2 separate regions of the Homo sapiens genome follow, and region 1 is linked to region 2. The links come from fine-mapping of genetic effects on gene expression. Tissue or cell type: subcutaneous fat. Region 2 holds a variant in brackets; the other region holds the start of a gene. All regions are shown on one strand. Distances are from middle to middle.

Region 1 (2,690 bases), 91 kb after region 2:
TCTTGACGCTGATGAGACATTTGCATCGTGACCAGCCACCAGTAAAATCTTTTAAGCCACGTTTTTTCTGCTTTTCTTGGGCACTCTTTTTTTTTTTTTTTTTGAGACGGAGTCTCACTGTTGCCCAGGCTGGAGTGCACTGGTGGAATCTCAGCTTACTGCACCCTCCACCTCCTGGTTCATGCCATTCTCCCACCTCAGCCTCCTGAGTAGCTGGGACTACAGGCGTGCGCCATCACGCGCAGCTAATTTTTGTATTTTTAGCAGTATTGGTTGCGCCATGTTGGTCAGGCTGGTCTCGGACACCCGACCTAAAGTGTCCCGCCCGACTGGGCCTCCCAAAGTGCTGGGATTACAGGCGTGAGTGCTCGGCCTCGGGCACTCTTTACTGAGCAACAACAGGTTGGAGAAACTAGTAGGGCTTCCAGTTTTTTGGTAAACCTATTGTTTAAAAGTCTGCCTGGTCATCAGATTCCAGTCGTCTTGTTTCTGCCTCAGATGATAAAACTCTAAAATTATAGGATGTGAGATCTGGAAAATGTTTGAAAACACTAAAGGGGCACAGTAATTATGTCTTTCGTTGCAACTTCAATAGCATGTATATTTTACACACTTTCATGACCATTAATCATCTCCTAAAACTGGGGAAAGCTCTCTAAAACCTCCTTAAGAGTAACCTTATCCGTTACCCTATTCCACCAACCTCTTTGTCCTTTTCTGTTTCAAGCAACTTTGAGATACCGACTTCTCTATGGAAGCTTAAGCCGTAGATGCTAAAACAAACGTTTGCTCGTTACTCCCAGCAGAGCACCGGCTTTTAAAGGACCTCAACAGACACGTTTCTTAACCTTTACGAAACTTTTCCAGGGGAAACTTAAACCAGGAATTTTACAATCTGGCATAAATTCTGTCACCCGCCCCGTGACTCCATCGCCACACATGCCACCTGGCTCCACACCACAACAAACAGGAGGGAGCGGAACCCATGCAAAGCAGGAGCTTCCCCCGTTTCCGGCGTCTGGGTGGATCTACGTTAGCTGCCGTTTAGGCAGCTTACGCGTCAGGTGTGGGCCTAAGCCTGCAGCTAAGGTAGGCATCCGCAAATCTAGTCCTTCTCTGTGACAATTTCCAAAAAGAAATGGTTTTTGAAACAACGATCCACTGCTTCCCACACTATCCAGTTAGGTCCGGGACAGACCCTACCCAGCTAATGCACTCACCCAAGAAGGCAGTCGCTTTCGCATTTGAAGGGCGGGGCGAAAAAGACCGGAAATGAACATTGGCGACTTTTTTGCGCAGGCGCAGATGGCCGTCTCCCATTGGTCATCTCGGCTCGGTAGTGGTAGGAGGGACTTCCTTTGCACATGCGCCAGGCTGCTTTTCCGGCTTTGTTGGAGATTGACGCGGCAGTGCACACCTGCTGGTACGAGCAAAAGTAGCCGACAGGCCAGAGTTTCCAGTTTCGGTGGCTTCGTAGGCTTTTAGCTTCTGAAATCCGCTAAAAGCGGCGGTTCATTCATCTTCAAGTACCTAGCCTGACTGGTAGGGCTGCTCAGCATTCCGAAACATTTCGACCTGGGGAGGGGGGCGGCGGTGAAAGAATACTTTCTGTAGAGAGTGCCCCTCGCGTCGCCCCTGCTTTGAAGGCTTTATGTATTAACGGAATGCCGAACATTTGTGTCCTACTTGCTGACAGCGCACAGGATCCTTCTAACAGTATTTCTCAAGTACTTAACAAAAAGATGAAAACTTGAAGTCCAAGCCGTGCTGCTGATTCCGTCTCACAGTTTAAAGACTGTCCAGAAACTTTAAGCTTTCAAAACTGTACATTTTAAAATCCTGTGCGTTTATCTTCATTTTGCTGGGCAGAAAGCCAAAGTACTGGACTGCCTGGTTCAGGGCTGAACGCCTAGTACACCTGCTAACTTGGAGCTTCAGAGCCATGGCAACCAAGGAGTCAAGAGACGCCAAAGCACAGTTGGCCCTCTCCTCATCGGCCAATCAGAGCAAGGAAGTGCCTGAAAACCCAAACTATGCTCTCAAATGTACTCTTGTGGGACACACGGAAGCAGTGTCATCAGTTAAGTTTAGTCCTAATGGAGAATGGCTAGCAAGTTCTTCTGCTGATAGGCTAATCATAATTTGGGGAGCATATGATGGAAAATATGAGAAAACACTCTATGGTCATAATTTGGAAATATCGGATGTTGCCTGGTCATCAGATTCCAGTCGTCTTGTTTCTGCCTCAGATGATAAAACTCTAAAATTATGGGATGTGAGATCTGGAAAATGTTTGAAAACACTGAAGGGGCACAGTAATTATGTCTTTTGTTGTAACTTCAATCCGCCATCCAACCTTATAATCTCGGGATCTTTTGATGAGACTGTAAAAATATGGGAGGTGAAAACAGGAAAGTGTCTCAAGACTTTGTCTGCTCATTCTGACCCAGTTTCTGCTGTTCATTTTAATTGTAGTGGGTCCTTGATAGTGTCAGGTAGCTATGATGGCCTCTGTAGAATCTGGGATGCTGCATCAGGTCAGTGTTTAAAAACGCTCGTTGATGACGATAACCCTCCTGTCTCTTTTGTAAAATTTTCTCCAAATGGTAAATACATTCTCACTGCAACTTTGGACAACACTCTTAAACTATGGGATTATAGCAGAGGCAGGTGCCTGAAAACATACACTG
Region 2 (2,690 bases):
CTTGTTGAAGGGTGAAGAGAGTAGCTGGTGGCCATTTTTTTTGTGGTGGGTGGAGGGCATATACTCATAGGTTTGTTTCTCTTGGGCTAGTCAGTTTCCCTGAGAGTCTCCAGTCTCTTGCCAGGAGAATGTGTGTCTGGCTGCCATGTTTTGAGAACTCATTTTAGAAAAGGAGCTTGGGTTTTTACTGTTGTGCTCATGTAATTCTGTTATCAATAAGGCACCTCACCCCCACCCTCACCTGCATTGGAGCACCCATTTGAAGGGATTACTGAAGGATGGTTGTCTGGTTGTGAAGAGTGGAGGAGGAAATCTGGGCATGTGATGGCTGTTTTGTAGACTTTCAACAAACCTTCTGATTTTGAGCCCAACTCCTCACTACCTTAAGGAGGGATAGTACCTGGATGATCTGTCTGAAGCATCCTGTTTGTGGGTAGGTAGTGTGAATCAGCTTGTTTCTTATTGCCTTCTTCGTTTGCAGGTTAGGCTTCAGAGTTTTCCACTTTGCTAGTGACATATAATTTGTCTATTTTATGGCTTCTTTTAGGTTTTGACACCATCTCTGATTCTTTTGCTTACCTATTCTCTTTATGCCGTGGTTCTGGTTCATTTATTTGAAAAAAAAATTTCTTTATAATTTTAGTATTCTACCATGTCTACCATTTTATTTCTTTACATAAACTCTTTGTTTTCTCCTCTGTTCATTTTTTCACAGCATTTGAATGACCACTGTGTGCCTATTGAAGATTAAAATTGAATTTCTGGCTTTGAGTTAATATGATATGGGAAGAAAAGTGCAGTCTATATGTGCTAATTCCTGATTTGAAATTTGAAAACCCTCATAAGTGTTCTTAAAACAGATATATTACAGTGGTTATTAAATTCATTAATGGATATGAATTGAATGAAGGCAAGTTTTTGCGATTAAAAATTTTTTTACTACTGAGGGAACGAACCCTTTATGTCATCTTCTGGAAAGATTTGTCTTTTTTTTTTTTTAACCCCCCAAAAAATCATTCAACTTTTAGATAAGAGATAATTTTTCTCCTTCATAAAGACCATAAAGATCAGAACTTCTGAAGAAATAACAGCATACTCAGTTGAAAAAATAGTAGTGAAAAGTATAGAAATTCAGTGTTTTAGGTAGGTTGATAAGCTTTATCATAGTAAACATATGCTTTCAGCTCTACTTTTTGAAAGTTTTTTTCTTGTATAATCAGTATATTGCTTATCACAGAAAATTTGGAAGATAAAATAATATTTCCATATTCAAATTTTATATGCTGATATCTTCTCTTTTCTTTTTTTTTTTTTTT[G/TG]AGATGGAGTCTTGCTCTGTCGCCCAGGCTGGAGTGCAATGGCACAATCTCAGCTCACTGCAACCTCTGCCATCTGGGTTCAAGTGATTCTCCTGCCTCAACCTCCCGAGTAGCTGGGATTGCAAGCGCCCGCCACCACGCCCGGCTAATTTTTGTATTTTTAATAGAAATGGGGTTTCCCCATGTTGGCCAGGCTGGTCTCGAACTCCTGACCTCTGGTGATCCGCCCGCCTTGGCCTCCCAAAGTGCTGGGATTACAGGTGTGAACTACTGCGCCCAGCTATATTCTGATTTCTTAAGTTACGAAATATTTTTCGAAAGTATAGAGAATAGTGTAGGTTGGGTTTTTGTTCCCAGCATTCAGATTTTTCATGTTAGTGTTCTGTTTTCTCAATACATTGTGAACATTTCCTTTAACCAAGCCCTCATATTGGAACTTTTAGGTTTTTTACAATTTTTCACTAGAATAATCACACTGCAGTGAACAGTCTTACACATACTACTAGTTTTGTTTCCTTTATGTACATTCTAAAAGTGGAAGTATTCAATTCAGGGTTTGAGTTCTCCAGATCCTTGACAGATATTTTCCTTTAAGTGTTTTGATATTGAGAATGTCTTTGGAGAACTTCCCAGCTTGGGAACCTATAGATACTGGGAGTTGGGGGTCAGAATTTGGGGCAAAGGTTATGATAAACCTCTCAAAGGAAAACATTTGAAACTGGGCTGTGAAAGAAAATATGTATTGCCATTGGATTATTGGTTAGAGCTATAAGATGAGGCCAGAGATGAACACCTATGAATCATATGTCTGCCACATTGACTTCTCACAGGAAAAGCTTTATTGAAGGGTTTTTCAAACTTTGCTTTCATTGAACACTGAAATGCTCTTAATAAAAATAAAGCTACTCCTTAATTATCGTATAGGAAAAGAATGGGTAGGATATTTCAAATTTTAATTTTCTTTTCTAATTTCTATTAAAATATTTTAAACGGACCTACTATCGTTTGACTAGAAGCTGTTAACATCAATAATTTATATTTTCAAATGAACTGAACACTTTATACTTATACTCCACTTATTTAAATTCATAACTTTTTTGTAGTCATACTTTCTTGTAGTTTTGGTTTTTAATAGTAAATGCATATCATATACTTTCTAATAAAATTATGCCTGATTTATATGGTGGAATTAAGTATATTAGGATTTCAAGTTGTTCCACAAGAGTATTATGGATTTTAAATATTCAGAACATTTAGAATGTGTTTGAGATTTACTGATTAGGTGGGCTGACCCAGTGCACTGAATATATAACATCTTGAATATAATAAAAATATAAAAAGATCTACACTCATTGTTTTGGGTTTAGAGTGGTG

Evidence for each region. PIP is the estimated chance that this variant, and not a neighbour inherited with it, causes the effect.
Region 1: WDR5B-DT starts here. The variant in region 2 is fine-mapped to the expression of WDR5B-DT in subcutaneous fat (FUSION, PIP 0.95).

The regions. Positions count from the first base shown.
Region 1 is chr3:122,414,781-122,417,470 of GRCh38, reverse strand. It overlaps WDR5B-DT (WDR5B divergent transcript), which reads right to left and starts at 1,265. Exons shown (of 3, transcript NR_125405.1): 1 at 1,221-1,265. It overlaps WDR5B (WD repeat domain 5B), which reads left to right and starts at 1,409. Exons shown (of 1, transcript NM_019069.4): 1 at 1,409-2,690. The coding sequence starts at 1,943. RefSeq lists enhancers at 1-611, 715-914, 1,075-1,124, 1,155-1,394, 612-1,429 and 1 more.
Region 2 is chr3:122,506,067-122,508,756 of GRCh38, reverse strand. The region is part of intron 1 of KPNA1 (karyopherin subunit alpha 1); the gene reads left to right. Among named protein-coding and RNA genes, the nearest start is that of KPNA1, 7.5 kb to the left of the region's middle. RefSeq lists enhancers at 1-18, 179-228. The variant G/TG (reference allele first, on the strand shown) is at 1,317.